Homo sapiens: one gene and its partner. Each later gene encodes a partner of the first gene's protein in a complex. Each region holds a gene or a part of one and is shown in the gene's direction. Other genes may lie near its edges. The genes, in order: NCBP3 and NCBP1.

Region 1 (12,096 bases):
AAAGGTAAATGTAATATTTGGTATTGTTTTATATTTTCAATCAAAATGATTTATTATGGAGTGACATCCTTCTTTTTTGAATAGAAGTTAGATCAAGTAATCTCAAAGTTCCCTTCAAACTATAATATTCTGCGCTTATGAAATAATTGCTTGCCACCTGAGTTGGAATTTCTGACTTTAAAAGTGAATATTAACTATTTGTATATTTCTGTGACTTCTGGCTAAAGTTATTTTCTGTTGAAACTGGTTTGCCTCATATATTTTCAGCCAGTTACCATCTGAATTATGAAAACTTTCAAATGAAACTTTATTTATTACAGCAACGTCCTCCTGAACATTGCCAGTGTACCATTCGGTTCTAATTCCCTTCTCATAAGATTGTTTACACATGGTGACTTTTGGTGGGCATTTAAAAATGTGTGTGTATGTGTATATATGTATGTGTATGTATGTGTATATATGTATATGTATGTATGTATCGCGTGTATGTGTGTATGTATGCATGTGTATGTATGTATATGTATGTATGTGTATGTGTATATATGTATGTGTGTGTATGTATATGTGTGTGTATGTGTATGTGTGTGTGTATGTGTGTGTGTATGTATGTATGTATGTATATGTATTATACACATATACACATATTGGTTTTTTTAATCATTTGAGAGTTAGTTGAAGATAAAAACCCATCACCCCTAAATGTATTCCAAAGAATAAGAACATTGTTTTATACATAGCACACTTAACAAAATCAAGAAATTTAACATTAATACAGTACTGTTACCTAATCCGTAGTCGATTTTCAAATTTTGTCAGTTGTTCCAATAATGTCCTTTATATATTCCCCGCCCAGCCCCAGGTCTAGGATCCATCCAGGACTGAGTGTGTAAGTATGTAATGTTTCCTTAGTCCCCCTTAAGCTGAAACTACTTCTATCCTCCCATGTTTTCCAAGAATATAGGTTTACTATTTTATACAATGTCCCTCAGTTTGGGTTTGTCTGATGATTCCTCCTGATTGAATTTGGGTTGTGCATTTGAGACAGGCGTGCCACAGAAGCGATGTCATGTCATTTCCAGAGCATCATGTCAGGAGGCCCTGGATACTTACTCGTCCCAGTCCTAGGGACGTTCACTTTATTCACTTGGTTAAGGTAATCATCACTAGGTTTTTCCACTGTAAAGTTGCTATTCTTCCATTTGTAATTTAAAAATTGGTGGGCTGGCTGGTTACAGTGGCTCGTGCCTGTAATTGCAACACTTTGGGATGCTGAGGCAGAAGGATCACTTGAGCCCAGGAGTTCGAGACCAGGCTAGGCAACATAGCAAGACCTCATCCCTATTTTAAAAAATAAAAAAATGATTAAAATAAAAAATTGGTGGGCAGATACTTTGAGATCACGTAAATAGCCTCTTGCTCATCAGAGCTTCATGCCTTTCTGACTATGTCATTTCTTTACCAGTAGACAGGTGCTCTAAGGAAGAGCCTTCTGTTTTTACCTGTTTGTTTATTTACATCAGTTTAGAATCATGGATTCTTTATTCAGTGGGTTATCATCCATGGATATCAGTATTTAATTTTATTTATTTTTTTGTTTGTTTTGAGACGGAGTGTTGCTCTGTCACCAGGCTGGAGTGCAGTGGCGCGATCTTGGCTCACTGCAACCGCTGCCTCCCTGCAACCTCTGCCTCCCTGCAACCTCTGCCTCCTGGGTTCAAGCAATTCTCCTGTCTCAGCTTCCCTAGTAGCTGGGACTACAGGTGCATGCCACCATGCCCAGCTAATTTTTGTATTTTTAGTAGAGATGGGGTTCACCATGTTGGCCAGGATGGTCTCGATCTCTTGACCTTGTGATCCGCCCGCCTCAGCCTCCCAAAGTACTGGGATTACAGGCGTGAGCCATCGCGCCCAGCCTAATATCAGTATTTTAATTTACAAATTGTCTTGGATTTGGCCAGTAGAGCCCCTTCAAGCTGTTTTGACATACTCCATGATTCTTTAAGCACTTTCTTTCTTTATGGCACAACAAAACATCTTGCTTTTCCAGACTCATTTTGCATCTTACCTGCTCCACATCTGGAATCAGCCATTTCTCCAAGGAGCTGGTGGGCATGGTTTGAGGGGTTCGGGGGTTGGGGGCTATACATACTGGTTTGTGTTGTCACGTTTACCTACAGCCCTGGATATATTTACAGTGGTGTTTGTTCTTTACAGTCAGAGTGTCCAAGAACTGTGGAAGGTCTTTGTATTACTACTTTTGACAAAAATTTATGATGACTGACCACCTTTCTTTCCTGTTAACTGACATTTCAACTTGACAAATGTGATCTTTACCACATTTACTCATTTGAGTGGCTGAGTACATTCTACATGTATAGTATTATGCTGTTTTCTTTAAGCCATTTTGAGGAGCACAATAAACTGGAAAAATGATTTACCAAATATATGGAATTATATGTAGTCTGTTTCCTTAATCCTGATGCTGTGTTGTTGGCATGTGATCCTTCAGAAGTGAATATCATCTTTCATGGGGTGGCAAAAATGCCACTATTTTGAGAAAGTCTTTTTGATTCCTGGGTACCTGTAATGACCTAAAGCTCTTTTATGCCTTTTGGAACCTTGTATCTTGTATTGTTTATTTTTGTTTTCTCCATTAAGTCATCTGGCTCCAAACAGCAGTTTTAACCTCATTCGTCTCTGTATTTTGCTTTATCCCCTCTACACTGCATTGCTGTAGTGGGCACTCAGAGTGTGAATGTTGGTAGTGGATTTTTACTTTTTGTTGGCAAATTGCGCTGATCTGATTCCAGCTATGGAAAACATTAAAAAAAAAATTCAACATTGTCTTTACACTCACAGGAAATCCTAGGTAACTATTGTCATTAATTTTTAGATGACAAAAAGGAACTTGGAGCAGCCAGAAGAAGTCAGTATTACATGAAATATGGGAATCCAAATTATGGAGGCATGAAAGGAATTCTTAGCAATTCATGGTGAGTCCAAAACCTTCAAATGCAATAGTATTTGAGTTTTTCTTAATCCTTCAGTTGGTATTCCGTGGTGAAATGTCTAAACCCTGTGTAAACTGGAAGGAAAACAAGAGGGAAGAATTCAAGATTCTTAGATGTGGTAAATGATGGGGAATGCTGAATTGTAGTTACATTTAAAATATCTGTGTTAGTACCTAACATTGTGTCAACGTGTAGTTGAAATGAATTAGCGAGCCCAGACATGGTGGCTCACGCCTGTAATCCCAGCACTTTGGGAGGCCGAGGCCAGCAGATCACCTGAGGTCAGGAGTTCGAGACCAGCCTGGCCAACATGGTGAAACCCCGTCTCTACTAAAAATACAAAAATTAGCCATGCATGGTGGTGGGCGCCTGTAATCCCACCTACTCGGGAGGCTGAGGCAGGAGAATTGCTTGAACCCAAGAGGCAAAGGTTGCAGTGAGCTGAGATGGTGCCATTGCACTTCAGCCTGGGAGAGAGATTGAGACTCCATCACAAAAAAAAAAGAAAAGAGAAAGAAATAGTGGATTTCAAGGTCCTTCCTATCAGTTTTTGATTGTGTGCTTATTTTGGCATTCTTGCAGGAAGCGAAGATATCATTCCCGTCGTATTCAGCGGGACGTGATCAAGAAGAGAGCCCTGATTGGGGATGACGTTGGCTTGACGTCGTATAAACATCGACATTCTGGTAGTTGCCTGCTCAGCTCTTGGGTAGACACATGTTTGGCTCCTGAAATCATATTTTTATTCTTAATGCAATCTTTTAAGGTTCCAAACTTTATCATCCTCTCTTCCTTGCCCTCACCCTCTGCCAACATATAGGAAAGTAAGTCAAGTCACAATTAATTTTAAGTTGCCCAAAGAGGTCAAATGATTTTATAAAAGCTGTTCTATCAAAAAAGGCAAAATATGACATAGGAAAAATTAAAACAAAACTTTCCTTAGGATCCTAATTTTTCTACTATTAATATCAACAGCTGCATGAAAACAATTTTTTTTTTTTTTTTAAGACGGAGTCTCGCTCTGTCTCTCAGGCTGGAGTGCAATTGCTTGATCTCGGCTCACTGCAACTCTGCCTCCTGGATTCAAGCAATTCTCCTGCCTTAGCCTCCCGAGTAGCTGGGACTACAGGCATGCGCCACCATGCCCAGCTAACTTTTGTATTTTTAGTAGAGATGGGGTTTCACCATGTTGGCCAGGCTGGTCTCGAACTCCTGACCTTGTGTTCCACCCACTTTGGCCTCCCAGAGTGCTGGGATTACAGGTGTGAGCTACCGCGCCTAGCCAAAAACAATTTTTGAAATTATTTTATCAGATGAACTGATTGTATTGTTCTTTTTCTGTATTAAAAATAGGCTGCTGTGTTGAGTGCTTTGTGCTTGTTGGTTTGTGCATGTGAATGCCTCAGAAGAGTGGGATATCATGACTTGGGTTTCTTTCTCCTTTTTTTGGTGCTTATTGTAAAAGAACCATTTTATTTATGTTTTATAAAGAATTGTTCTTGTTTTGAGCCTAATCTATGGAATCTTCTACATGCCTAATAGAACTAGTCAAGTCAGCATACAAAATAACATATACACACATTTATCATTGTAATGGGGACAGAAAGGGATGAAGTCTAGATGTTTTATTTAATGTGTATATACAAAATTGTATATTTGAGATCTACATGTTAATAATACACATAGGATGGGAACAGTGGCTCACACCTATAATCCCAGCACTTTGGGAGGCCAAGGCAGGAGGATCACTTGAAACCAGGAGTTTGAGACCAGCCTGGGCAACATAGTGAGACCTTGTCGTTACAAAAAATTAAAAAATTAGCCAGACCAGGCATGATGGCACATACCTGTGGTCCCAGCTACTTGGGAGGCTGAGATTGCCTGAGCCTGGAAGGTCAAGGCTGCAGTGAGCCAAGATTGTGCCACTGTATTCCAACCTGGGCGACAGAGCAAGACTTTGTCTCAAAATAATAATAATAATACACATACTTTACTGTTACACAGTTACACTTTTCCAATTTGAGTTACTTTAAAATATTTTCATCATATACTTTTTATATCCATATTAAGGAAATTAAAAAGCAAATTGCCCCTATTTCTAGTACCCTGTATGATGACTGAGTTCATCTTACATTTTTCCCATTTGTTTTCATAATAAATAGTATAACTCTTGGGAACATGTACTTTATATTCTACTTCTTTCGTTTATTGTATTTTTCCATTTTCATTATTCATGGTGCTTATGTTCTATAAAGTCACTGTGAACACTGAAGTAGCAAATACTGAATCGTACATAGCCTCTGGCCACATCATTTTTGTCAGTTGATCAATATGTAACCTTGTTTTACATATGTTTCTCTCTTTTTTTTTTTTTTGAGACAGAGTCTTGCTCTGTTGCCCAGGCTGGAGTGCAGTGGCGCGATCTCGGCTCACTGCAACCTCCGCCTCCCGGGTTCACGCCATTCTCCTACCTCAGCCTCCCGAGTAGCTGGGACTACAAGCGCACACCACCATGCCCGGCTAATTTTTGTTGTATTTTTTAGTAGAGACAGGGTATTAGCATGTTAGCCAGGATGGTCTCGATTTCCTGACCTCGTGATCTGCCCACCTCGGCCTCCCAAAGTGCTGGGATTACAGGCGTGAGCCACCGCGCTGGGCCCATATGTTTCTCTTTAAGACACCTTATTTAAGACACATTGTTGATTCGTTAACATTGAGTTCACAGCCAGTAGCCCTATAACTCATGCCTGAATGCCTTACCTGATATGGTATTTTTCCACAAGGCACATCACAGCCCCCTTGCATCTAGGAACACTAGGCAGCACTTCGGCACGACACTCAGGGCCATTTTAAGCAGTGAAATCACTAGCAGCAGGCACAGAAGTGTGAAAAATGTGCCACTCGGTGGACTGAAACAGACGCTTGTTTACAGCATGAGATGAAACAGGAAGGTGGAGTGTTGCTTTGTTTGACCTCCACTGGGAGTGTGTGTGCCTGGTGACTCAGATTTTTTTGCCACTCTGTGCGTGCCAGCAAATGACCATGGAAGCATTGCACGTATTCATTTTGGAGTTACAAATAAATTTGGTAAATTTGCAAATACAAAATCTGTGAATAATAAAGGTCAGTTGTATTTTAAATGACTTTATGGTATTTGGTTAGGCTGCTGCATCATACTTTACCTAGCCATCCTCCTGTTGCAGTATCAGAGTAATGTCCATTTGGCACTATTATAGATAGTGCTCCAATAAAATGTCAGGGATGGGAACCCCACCTTTTAAAAAGGTCACCGATGTAGAGTAGAAAATCATACTTGTTAATTTTAGTGCTTTTCCTAATGTTTTCTGGTTAAATTTCTTCAGGGCTAGTGAATGTTCCCGAGGAACCCATTGAAGAGGAGGAAGAGGAGGAGGAGGAGGAAGAGGAAGAGGAAGAAGAAGACCAGGACATGGATGCAGATGACAGAGTGGTGGTAGAGTACCACGAGGAGCTCCCGGCTCTCAAGCAGCCCCGGGAGCGGAGCGCGTCTAGACGATCCAGTGCCAGCAGCTCAGACTCAGATGAAATGGACTATGATCTAGAACTGAAAATGATTTCCACGCCTTCACCAAAGAAAAGCATGAAAATGACTATGTATGCTGACGAAGTGGAATCTCAGTTGAAAAATATTAGGTAAAAATTTGTTTTATCAAAGCTAGCTTTTAATTTGATTTTAAATACTAGTATAACTTCTTAATTCCTCCTAATTTTATAATATCTTTTATCTATTCTGATTTCAGTCCCTTGTAGGAGTTTAATAAACGCATCCAGTATTTCCTCTATACAAGCAGTGATTCTTGTTATAAAAACAAAAGACAACATAGAAAGTGAAAATCATCTGTATTCCCATTCTTTCTCAACAATAACTACTGTTAGCAATTTGGCGAATAACCTTTCAGCTATTTGTGTGTGTGTGTGTGTGTGTGTGTATGGCACAGGGAAAAGCTGTAGATATATTTGTATAAAAGTATACTTTTTATAAAGATGAGGTTATGCTATTTATAGTTTTGCATTGTGCATTTTTCACTTAATATATTGTAGACATTATTTTTTTCAACTGTATATAGTCTGTTGTTTGAAAGTATCATGATTTATTTAACGAATTCCTTTTTGATGGACTTTAGGTTTCTATTTTCTTACAATTGCACTAACTCAATAAATTCCTCAAAGTCCAGTTATTACACAAAACAATATGTGTTTAAAAAGATGGTAAGTATTGCTTTATTTTTTTCCAGAAGGGTTTTTTGTGTGTTTTTATTTTTTTTTTGAGACGGAGTCTCGCTCTGTCACCCAGGCTGGAGTGCAGTGGCGCGATCTCGGCTCACTGCAAACTCCGCCTCCCAGGTTCACGCCATTCTCCTGCCTCAGCCTCCCGAGTAGCTGGGACTACAGGCGCCTGCCACTACTCCTGGCTAATTTTTTGTAATTTTAGTAGAGACGGGTTTCAGCATGTTGGCCAGGATGGTCTCAATCTCCTGACCTCGTGATCCACCTGCCTCAGCCTCCCAAAGTGCTGGGATTACAGGCATGAGCCACCATGCCCGGGCTCAGAAGGGTTTTAATCCCAGAAGGGTTTTAATCACTCACATTACCACCTGTTACCTACAAGCTCACCAGCCTTAGCTATTACCATTCTTTCTAATGCTAGCTAGTTTCATGAACAAAAAAAAAATAGTTATTTTAATGTGCATGTCTTTGATTACTACTAGGGGTGAGCAGATTCTGTGCAGGCAGAATCCACAGTTCTAAGGGTTAGAGTCTAGGGATGCTCTGTGTAACGTAGTATGTTTGTGGGGAGGGGAAAAGACCATTCAAGCTGATTTGTTTGTATGGCCTTGTTCACCACGTTCTTTTTTTTTTTGAGACGGAGTCTCGCTCTGTCGCCCAGCCTGGAGTGCAGTGGAGCGATAACACGATCTCGGCTCACTGCAAGCTCCGCCTTCTGGGTTCACAGCATTTTCCTGCCTCAGCCTCCCGGGGAGCTGGGAGTACAGGCCACCACGCCCAGCTAATTTTTTGTATTTTTAGTAGAGACTGGGTTTCACCATGTTAGCCAGGATGGTCTCGATCTCCTGACCTCGTGATCCGCCCGCCTCAGCTTCCCAAAGTGCTGGGATTACAGGCATGAGCCTGTTCACATTCTTATTTTTGGTTTTCAGAGAGCTTTCTGGTAGAGAATGCTGCCGGAACGGTGCTGGCACCTAGCATGATAGCATATCTCTTTGAAAGAGAAGTCTGCCCTTTAAAGAGAGAGACTGTAGACTATACTGTGTGTTGACTACAGCCACATCACAGCATGTGTAAGTGGAAGCCCCAATCTCTTTGTAGGCCTCTACTTAACGTTTGTCCCAGAAAAGGGGGACTTGTAGTTGTATGCTGTGTAATAGCACATACACATGTGGAAACCACCTTCGAAAACCTGCTCACCAGAACCAGTCTCTTTAGAGCAGGCAGATCATGGTTTCCATAAGCAAATAATTATAAGTTTATGGATTTGTAAGTGAATGTTGGCCATGTAAGACAGGATTTCTTAAATTGTTTCCTCCAAAGTATGAGATTGTTGTTTGGGTCTTGTCTCACAGTTGAAGTTGGTTAACTGTGCCCCATCCTACCCCCTTTTTAAAGGAACTCCATGAGGGCAGATAGTGTATCTTCAAGCAATATCAAAAACCGAATTGGTAACAAATTACCACCTGAGAAATTTGCAGATGTCCGACATCTATTAGATGAGAAACGTCAGCACTCCCGTCCACGGCCACCAGTCAGCAGTACTAAATCAGGTACTGTTCCTCACTTGGATTCCTGGCTGGATTCTGAGCTCCGGAAAGCAGACTGGGGCAGAGAGAGGTTCCTGAGTAAAACATGCGATGTGTGAACTGATTTAGCTGTCCTGGTTCATCATGTCTAAATTGTGGGCTAGGTGTTGGAAATTGAGGAAATGAAAAATAATCAGACTTCTGAAAAACTAGCTTTAAATGTTTTTATTCCAAATAATTACAGTTGTTCCTTGGTATGTCTGGGGGCTTGCTTCCAGGACCCCCTCCCCGCCCCCTACAGATACCAAAATCCATTGATGCTTAAGTCCCTTATATAAAGTGACATATTATCTGCATATAACCTACACACATCCTCTCATATACTTTAAGTCATCTCTAGATTATTTACAATACCTAATACGGTATAAATTCTTATCCTGTGTTGTGTAAAATTTGTATTATTTTTTGCTGTACTCTTATGTCTTACTTTTTTTCCACATGTATTCGATCAGCAGTTGGTTGAATCTATAGATGTGGAATCCATGGATGAGGAGGGCCAACCATATTTTCCTCTGTATGACACTGGTATACTTTATATACAAGAATAATAGAAATTAAGTTCGGTGGTTGTCTGAACAGTTAAGAGTTTGAACTAGATAATTTCTATGTTCAAACACTGATTCAGCAGGTCTTTAGCCGTACCTGCTATGTGCCAGACCCTGGTCTAGGTGCTAGGAATGTGAGAAGCCTTTGGAGGGGACGCAGAGCCGTCATAGATCTACTCGGGAAGTTGTGAAAGACTTCTTAGAGAAAGTAGCATTAGAGCCAGGCCTTGGAGAGGGTAGGATCTCTGTTGGCAAACCTGATTTTTTTACATGAGAAGTAACCTGATCTTACATCTATTTTAGAAAGACAACTTGAGGGTGGAGTGGGGTGGGGTAGAGAGTTAAAAAAGTAACAAGAGCCTGAACTAGGTCGGTGGAGACAGAATGGATAAAGAACAGGATAGTCTTGTGAAGGAAGACTCAGTGCTAGGAAGTGTTGGAGGAAAGGAGCTCAGGTCTCAGTGACCAGAGACCAGGGTGCTGCTCTCTGAGAGAAGCTAAAGTGAGAGGAGACCTCGGCACAGGGCCTCACCAACGAATGTGTTTCTGTTGTTGCTGTGGTGGTTAGGGGGAACTCAAGAGGACAGGCCGATTTCTGGGGGGATTGAGGGAAAAACACATTTGATCCTTTGCCTTTTCCAGTCTCTTTATATTTACTGGTTAAATGTAATAAGTTTATTGGGAACTACTTGTATGTTCAAAGATTGTGCCTTCCACTTTCCAGGAGCTCACAGGATTTTTTGTTCGCTGAAACTTTTGTAAATTACTTAGTCTTCTTGATTCTGCTTAAAGAAAAAAAAAAAAAGGTTGTTTCTTCAGAAATATAGTTCTGGAGTAATCAGTTGAGGATTTTTCCTCTGACAGCCCCTATGTCCGAATTTTCCTAAGGAAATCCAGACTGATTACAAAGGAAGAATACTTAGCAGCCTGATTGTCAGGCCCTGTGTCCTCGGGGCAGGGGTTAGCGCCAGATCCGTTAGAGGTGTCAGGCGGCTGGTGCCGAGCATAAAGCACACACACGGTCACTGGTGCACTTTTTCTCTTTTTTCAGATATACGCCAGCGGTTAGGAAAAAGACCACATTCTCCGGAAAAGGCTTTTAGTAGTAACCCCGTCGTTCGGAGAGAGCCCTCTTCTGATGTGCATAGTAGGCTAGGTGTTCCCAGGCAGGATAGTAAAGGCCTCTACGCCGATACTCGGGAGAAGAAATCAGGTTGGTAACACTTAAAACGGATGGGAATGGGGATTCAGTGAGAGCAGAGGACAGTGGGTGTATTGGAGAAATACTTTCTTAGCAGAAGGCAAGAAACAGCCCACGCCAAATATAAGTGATTATTCCTTTTCCATTATAGTTATCGTCAGCATCAGCATCAGCATCATCCCAACAGTTAGGAACGCTTAGAAAATAGAAAAAAATAGCACACTCCTGGCTCTTTCTGTTTGGCACAAATCTTTTTAGTTTCATGTGAGCTATTCTGGTCTTTGCCCACATACAAATCCTAGTTTTTTCATACAGCATTTTATCGTAGTTGTTTGCCACATTTTATAATCTTTATAAATAAAACTTTTAGGCCAGGCATAGCGGCTCAACACCTGTAATCCCAGCAATTTGGGAGGCCGAGACGGGGGGATCACTTGAGGTCAGGAGTTCGAGACCAGCCTAACCAACATGGTGAAACCCTGTCTCTACTAAAAACACAAAAATGAGCCGGGCGTGGTGGTGGGCGCCTGCACCACTGCACTTCAGCCTGGGCAACAGCAAGACCTTGTCTCAAAAACAAAAACAAAAACAACTTTGAATTGCCTTATAATGTGGCCGTCTACAAAATTCTAAACACGTATTTCTCTATTGTTAAATTTTCATAAAATATATTTCAAAAATTAATGGAAGGGATCTGGGAGTGGCCTACTTCTGGCAGAATGGATTGGCACACAGGGTGGTGTCTCAGCAGGGAAGGGCAGGAGTAGGAGGAAACGGCCTCTCAGGTGATTCTGATGTGTCTGGTGACAGGGAGGGACCTGACCTGTCCCCCCACGGTGAGAATCCCGTGCTGGGTCCAGACCCTTCCGTTTGCGGGCAGGGGCTGCGGCCCGGGAAATGAGATTTTGCCTGCCCAAGGCTGCACTGTGGTGGCAGGCTCCACAGACTGCTGGCGTTTCCTGCACAGCAGGTGTTGGCAGTGCTGCTGCCCCCTCAGTGCTACCCTGGTTCTTAGCGCTGACTGCGAAAGTGAAATGCCATCTCATCCAAACAGGTAATTTATGGACTCGCCTAGGATCTGCACCCAAGACCAAAGAAAAGAATACGAAGAAAGTGGATCACAGGGCGCCTGGCGCTGAGGAAGACGACTCTGAGCTGCAAAGGGCATGGGGGGCTCTGATTAAGGAGAAAGAGCAGTCTCGCCAAAAGAAGAGCCGGTTAGATAACTTACCATCTCTCCAGATTGAAGTTAGTCGGGAAAGCAGCTCTGGTTCAGAGGCAGAGTCCTGATGCCCCTGGGGCCTATGGCAGCTGCCCTAAAGCCTGACATTCTTGCACAGGGTGGGGCGCGCAGTAGGAACCTCCCCCGCAGGAGCTGGCGCCCTCTCGCTCCTGCTCACACAGTCACCCTCCGCTCTTGCTACTTCGGCAAGACATCTTAAGAATGTGACACATTTTCAAGGGCATCTCTATCTTTCGCTGCA
Region 2 (7,000 bases), on another chromosome or scaffold:
CTATGAGGATTATTTATTTTGATGCCCAAATTGTCCCTGGTATGTACATGAGGAGCCCCGGTAAGCTCTCTCTCTCTCTCTCTCTCTATATATATATATATATATATTTTTTTTTTTTTTTTTAACGTCCCCAGCCATTCATTGAGCATTCCCTTATTTTCTAGAACAACATATTTAGGATCATCTTGCGTTTTCTTGCCCTATCACTGGAATCATCTATTTATTCATGGAGCCCTAGTTTCTAGTAAAGTAGTAATGGAATATGGTATTTAGGAGCCAAGATCTGGGCACTTGATATGCTCATTGCCATTGGGGTGTCATTGGTTCTAAGCCTCTTGGTGGACACACATCCATCCATCCATAACTGTTTTTATGTCCACCTGTGTGTATATATGCCTCCAATTCCAACTCAATACCTTATTTCTACACTTCTTCTCTACCATGATTTGTAAACACCTTCTCAGGCAGTAACAAACTTGGCTTCCATTATCCTCAATATTTATTTATTTGATAGAATATAGCCAGTTTCCAAAGCGTGCAGTCATCTCCACCATGCCCCATCATCACCCCACATACTTGGCCACCAGGCTCATGAGCTCACTCACCCGCACCTCAGTGCAAGCCAGTGAGTTTTGCAGTATGCCTGAGATTTGGTGTGCTGGCTTAGACAAAAACTCAAAGGATTTTTTTTTCCCTTTCACTTCTTGGTTGTCAGCTGAGTTCAAGTTGTTGGAGATCATGACTTTCCAGGTAAGTCGGGTGTTACCGAAGAATGGGACTGATAAAAGATATTTTCTGAGGCTGTTATTTGTATTGTAGGTTGTCTTACCATCAGCGTATATTAGATATTGTTCCTCCTACCTTCTCAGCTCTGTGTCCTGCAAACCCAACCTGCATTTACAAGTATGGAGATGAAAGTAGCAGTAAGTAATGAAACTAATCCCTCTGTCTTTAAAAGGTACCAGTTCAAGTATATCTGAAGTTAGTTGTTTAAAGTGGAGAAATTGAACTTTTTCTTTTCTTGGGGTTTATATTTCCTGTATTTGAAAGGTGGTCTATCATTAGCCACTGTTTTATTTGCCCTGTCATCATTTTGAGGATTTGGTTGTGATAAAATTAATTACTACTGGCTTATCATTTTTTCTCTTTTGAATGTGTTAAGTATAGCAAGATGAATTTATAGTTAGAACTTACTAAACTGAAAACGTGTATTTGTCATGGTGATGGAGGTTACTTGAATTCATTATCTTGTTCAGGTGTGGTATTGAGAACATAGATGCACATATTTGTGGCAGTATGCCTTTAAAAGTAAATTCTTAATTATGATTTTCTTACCTTTTGGTCACATAATCTCTGAAATTGCACCATAAATCAGGGAGTGTAATTTGATGTGCCATTTTGCCCTTTGCATAGTATTTACACTTAATGAAGGTAAAGTATTATACATTGTTGATCACTGGTAGAGTTAGGTGTGGAGTTTTTCCAACTTGTTCTTTGCAGATTACACTTAACACAGCCCCTCCATGATCCTTCCATTTTGTGTTGTGTAGAGGTTCTTTGTATCTCACAACTTTCTGCTGTTCTTTGCTTTTCATACTGTGTGCCTGTTTCTCCACCTCTGTCTCTGACTGTACCTGTTTTCCTTGAAATGAACTGTGTCGGTCCTGGTACATTTCCTATTTCATTATGTCAACTCTGAAGAATAGATATGATTATCAAAACTACAATGAGGAAATGACTTCCAAGAGGTCAAGCTAGAATGAGATTGCTTTTGAGTGGTGGAGCCCAAATTCAGGCGTAGGTGCACTAACTGAGTGGCCATGCTGTTAGCCACTGTGCTTTTTGGCAGATCAAAGGTTTATGCAGTACTTAGAAGTGCTGGGTTTTGAGTTTTGTCCTGTACTGGTTCCGAGAATGATAAGGTGTAGTCTTTGCTATCAGAAAGCTCAGGCTTTTGTTGAAGATTAAGCTTTCTTTTTGCCCCATAGGAATAACTCCGCCTAACATTCAAGGCCTTCATAACCATTGTTCCTACTTTGTTATTTTTCACTTCTCCCCACATGGACCTCTATTTCTGCCAGGTCCATGTACTTTTTTATTTTTTCCATACTCCCTGTTCTTGACTTTGCCATTACCCCAGTCTGGAAAGCCCTTTCTAGCTCCACTTCCTTTTCTCCTTCTAGATTCTAGCCCAAGCTCAATAGCTGTAAATATTTTTTAACCGTTAGCAAGCCAGTTTTGTATTGCTTCCTGGCTGTGTCTAATGTGAATATCTTGGTTCCCCAGCTAGAATGTAGACTGGTGACAGGGGATTCTGTTTTTCTTCGCCTTCTTTTTTTTAGAGAAAAAGCTCACAGCAGGTGTAATATGACTGTCCTCACATGACTGTTGTAATTTACTTTATTCATTCCAGTAACTCATACTCTATAACAGGATTGCCTTTTTTGTTACCTCTTTGTCTACCTTACATTAAAAGCAGATTTCTTGTTGCTCTGGTGATGCCTTACGGTGTATATTAGCACAAATTTTTATAATAAGGACTCAACTGATACCAACCAATAGTAAATACAAGGAGTCCCATCACGTGAGCATCTGACTTACGTAGATTCAAGCTTGTGGACTCAGCAAAAAAGAAAAGTACAAAAACAAAACCTCTCTGAAGTTGGCAGCCATTACCTTGTTGAGACTCAGACTTCATTTCCACGGTCCCGAGGAAAGAAAGAGGAAGTGGGTGTTGGCAAAATGAAAGAGAAGTACGTTGGTTCTGGGATTTTGAGCCCAGGAGAGTTGAGGGCATTAAAAGACAGTTTAACTGTGTCCACTTTTCTCCTTACCATTCATCTTGAGGATGATCAGCACCTTGTGCTCTAAATTTTACTTAGCTAAGTGTCCTTAATGAATTGTTGAAATGAGAATTGTCCCTTTTTAGGTGAAAAACCATTAACCTATTAGAAAAAGCTTTCACATACGGTATTTATATGTGATTAAATATTGACCTTGGGATAAAGAGCATCCTATTTTGAAAGGAAGAATTTAAAAAAAATTTTTCTCAGTTATTTAACTGTTCATTAGAATAGTCTTGAAACCTGATCTGTCATTCCCCTTACCCCCAATTCTGTGTTTAGATTCTCTTCCTGGACATTCTGTTGCCCTCTGTTTAGCTGTTGCCTTTAAAAGTAAGGCAACCAATGATGAAATCTTCAGCATTCTGAAAGATGTACCAAATCCTAACCAGGATGATGACGACGGTAAGTGGAATTCAGTATTTCTTAAGTGGAACTATGTATAGGCCAACTTAAAGCATAAACATAACTCTGGCAACATGATGCTCTTAAAGCAATATATCTATATCTGTTTGACCTGTTCAGACTGTTGTTCTTAGCACCCCAGGTATTTTCCCCTTATATAAAAAGAGATCCTAACATTTCTGTGATATAGCTTACTTAAGAATATAAACTTCATCGTAAATACAAAGTGAAATATGTTACCATTCAAGGATTTTTAACCCCTGCTTTCACCATAGAGAAGTTCCTGAATAGAAAGACTTGGTGTGTTATAAAGTTGGATGTTTTCTCCAAGTTAAGCTATTAGAATAATAATGTTTAACATTTACTCAGTTATATACCATGTAATTCCAACCAGAATCCTAGGAGTTTTTCTGGGCAAGAGTGGGAAAATTGACAAAATAATTTATACAGTTGCCTGAATCAATAAATGGATATGCACATAGAAAAACTACTGAATCAAAATAAGATATTAGTGGCCTTTGGGTATTTATTACTGGGATTTTGTTTGGATATCTCTAAGAAATTTGTATTATGATATTAGAGAAAATGAGTTTAGAAAGAATAAGCCAAAATGATGGCATTAAATTCAGATGTTGTCAGACATCTTAAGACATAAGCTTAAGTGTTTTTTTTTTTTTTTTTTGGTATTAATATAATAGAGGCTATGAATAAGGAAACCTGTGTGATTTTTTTTTTTCAAGGAATGGATGATAGAATTAAGACAGTCACATAAAACTAAGACTTAAAATTACAAGTGGTTTCATATTTTCAGTGTTTGAAATCAGTGACGGTCTTTTATTGTTTATTAGAACCAAAAAACATTACACAAATATCTGTGTATAGATGTGAGCAACCATCTATTTAGCATTTGAGGTAAGGCACCAAGGAATTGCTGTGCTTACATTTTTCTGTTTTACTATAAAATATTTTTCAGATGAAGGATTCAGTTTTAACCCATTGAAAATAGAAGTCTTTGTACAGACTCTGCTACACTTGGCAGCCAAATCATTCAGCCACTCCTTCAGTGCTCTTGCAAAGTATGTATGAGTACAGAGCCTTGCTTGAGAGTTTGGAATTTTGCTTGGTGAACACCAGTGGTATGGTAATTTTTACCTAAGATTGTTGAATATGAAGATCTTAATAGTGTATAATTGGACACAGTGGGTTTGGGTTTGTGGTAGCTGAAATCCATATCCTAAGGCTTCCGTCAGTCTGTTTGTACAGTTGGCATATGTACATGGTAAGTGCTTTTTTTCATATAGACATTTAAAGAAACTAGTGAAAAACCTAGGTTTTTGGGACAGTCATATGCAGTTGGAAGTTCCCACGCTAAATATCTTTCCAAAGCAATGTAAGAAGAAATTAGAATCAGCTACACTGTTGGGAGTCACGCAAAGGTTGGCATCTGAAGACAGGTATTTTTAACTTGTCAGACAGGGTCCAAAGGAAGAAAGAGCACATAGATTTTCCTTCTGCCAAGCAGAGAAACTGGACATCTCACCCCATCTCTGTCTCCAAGGCTTTATATTACTTGCAGGGTTCCCACAGAAGATGCAGTTTGAATATTTCACCATGTTTGAAGACAGTTCCTTAGTCCTTACCTATTCTTTTAAACTGTAGCCCTGGGCTAACGGTAGTATATTGTAAATGTCTTGAGATTTTGTGACAGCTTCCTTAAAAACTATCAATCTGTGATCACACTTTTTGCATCCTTAATGGTTAATACTTAGTTATTTTGCATTTATATATTGCATTATAAATTGAGTAACATTGAAAAGGCTTTGAAAACACTAAAATGTTTAATGAATAAGTATATATGGTATTTTTTTCCCATCATTATCAAAAGGTTTCATGAAGTCTTCAAAACCCTAGCTGAAAGTGATGAAGGAAAGTTACATGTGCTAAGAGTTATGTTTGAGGTCTGGAGGAACCATCCACAGGTAAAAATTATTTAATTAGACATGTTGAAGCTCTGATTGTATGGGTATAAAAATAAGGCCGTTAATTGCCATTGTTTTGTTTGTAAAACATGAAATTTGACTCTGCCTAGATAATGGTTTTTAGATCTAATTCTTTCAGTGCTATGGGAGTAATGATGTTTCATTCATTCTTGAAAGAGTAAGCATTATTATGATTTGGTTTTGAACTATAATATCTCAATATGTTTTAAATGTTCAGGAAAAGGTTTATCTAGTCTATCCAGTTTCTAAATGCAAGCTCCAGATTTCTCAAACCTTGATATATATTGTGTATGACAAAGAAACATTTAAATAAATTTCATAAAACAGTGAGTGTGTAATGATAAAACATTGTTTTACATTTAACTTCTGGGGTTCATTGAAATTATGTATTTTTTTGAATACGTATTAGTACCTGAAATTTAAATTTTTTTTTGGAGACAGAGTCTCACTCTGTCACCCAGGCTGGAGTGCAGTGGCGCAATCTTGGCTCACTGCAACCTCCGCCTCCCGGGTTCAAGTGATTCCCCTGCCTCAGCCTCCCGAGTAGCTGGGATTACAGGCGTCCACCACCACACCTGGCTGATTTTTGTATTTTTAGTAGAGATGGGGTTTCACCATGTTGGCCAGGCTGGTCTGGAACTCCTGACCTCAGGTGATCTGCCCACCTCGGCCTCCCAAAGTGTGCTAGATTACAGGTGTGAGCCACCGCGCCTGGCCAGTTTTTTCAAATTTTAACTGTTACCATTCAGAGTTTTTGTTTAGTCAACCTGTTTCTTGTAGTGCTAGAGCAAAGCAAAGGGGAGAATAAATCTTAAGACCTAATGATCAGGCCAGGCGTGGTGGCTCTTACCTGTAATCCTAGCACTTTGGGAGGCCGAGATGGATGGATCACTTGAAGCCAGGAGTTCGAGACCAGCCTAGGCAATACAGTGAAACCCCGTCTATACTAAAATTACAAAAATTAGCCAGGCATGGTGGTGCACACCTGTAATCTGAGCTGCTCAGGAGGTTGAGGCAGGAGAATTGCTTGAACCTAGGAGGTGGAGGTTGCAGTGAGCTGAGATCGTGCCACTCCACTCCCGCCTAGGTGACAGAGCAACTCTGTCTCCCAAAAAAAAGACCTAATGGTCAGATTGATCAATCAATTCCATAGCCACCAAAACTAAATTTTATAGCCCTCCTATTTTACTTTTATAGCAGCAGTGTGGTGGCACATATATATGTGTGTGTATGTGTGTGTGTGATTTACTTGAATAATTCTCTCATTGTAGATGATTGCTGTACTAGTGGATAAGATGATTCGTACACAAATAGTTGATTGTGCTGCCGTAGCAAATTGGATCTTCTCTTCAGAACTATCTCGTGACTTTACCAGGTAATATAAATTATTTTATGAAACTTGTGTTCCCTAAGAATTGATATATGTGTGGTCTCTTATACATAAGCTTCAAATTCTGGTCCAAACCAGGTTGATATTAATATACTAATGGTCCAATCTGGTAGGATTGGACATGGCAAAAATTCCTAGACAGTGGAAACATACACAGCCTATCAGGTTGCAGCGTCTCTTAGCAGGGACACTCTTAAGTTGAATCAAGGCTAAGCCAGTGAAGTAGAAATCCTGTTGAAGGATCCAGACTGTTGGGAGAGAAAACTAGCAAGAGCCAGCTATGTGCAGAGTCTCAGCTAGTCCAGATGGAACTCGGGAAGGGTTCCAGCTTCAGTGGGGATGGCACCTAGAATGCACACCAG

Evidence for each region.
Region 2: the proteins of NCBP3 (region 1) and NCBP1 are in contact, whole or in part, in a cryo-EM structure (PDB 8BY6), measured with the Homo sapiens proteins. Residues at the interface, in NP_001107590.1 of Homo sapiens: Glu572, Asp574, Glu576, Leu577, Gln578, Ala580, Trp581, Gly582, Leu584, Ile585, Lys588, Glu589, Arg592; in NP_002477.1 of Homo sapiens: Lys330, Ile377, Glu378, Cys380, Lys381, Pro384, Pro388, Gln389, Ala392, His420, Asn423, Phe424, Gln425, Arg427, Trp428, Ser429, Glu431, Asp432.

The regions. Positions count from the first base shown.
Region 1 is NC_000017.11:3,812,850-3,824,945, reverse strand, and holds part of NCBP3 (nuclear cap-binding protein subunit 3), read left to right. Parts: coding exon 1-4; intron 5-2,893; coding exon 2,894-2,993; intron 2,994-3,593; coding exon 3,594-3,697; intron 3,698-6,373; coding exon 6,374-6,683; intron 6,684-8,675; coding exon 8,676-8,830; intron 8,831-10,462; coding exon 10,463-10,624; intron 10,625-11,666; coding exon 11,667-11,902; 3' UTR 11,903-12,096. UniProt on the Homo sapiens protein: Associates with NCBP1/CBP80 to form an alternative cap-binding complex (CBC) which plays a key role in mRNA export. NCBP3 serves as adapter protein linking the capped RNAs (m7GpppG-capped RNA) to NCBP1/CBP80.
Region 2 is NC_000009.12:97,657,821-97,664,820, forward strand, and holds part of NCBP1 (nuclear cap-binding protein subunit 1), read left to right. Parts: intron 1-819; coding exon 820-923; intron 924-3,125; coding exon 3,126-3,248; intron 3,249-4,221; coding exon 4,222-4,324; intron 4,325-5,133; coding exon 5,134-5,227; intron 5,228-6,519; coding exon 6,520-6,623; intron 6,624-7,000. UniProt on the Homo sapiens protein: Component of the cap-binding complex (CBC), which binds cotranscriptionally to the 5'-cap of pre-mRNAs and is involved in various processes such as pre-mRNA splicing, translation regulation, nonsense-mediated mRNA decay, RNA-mediated gene silencing (RNAi) by microRNAs (miRNAs) and mRNA export.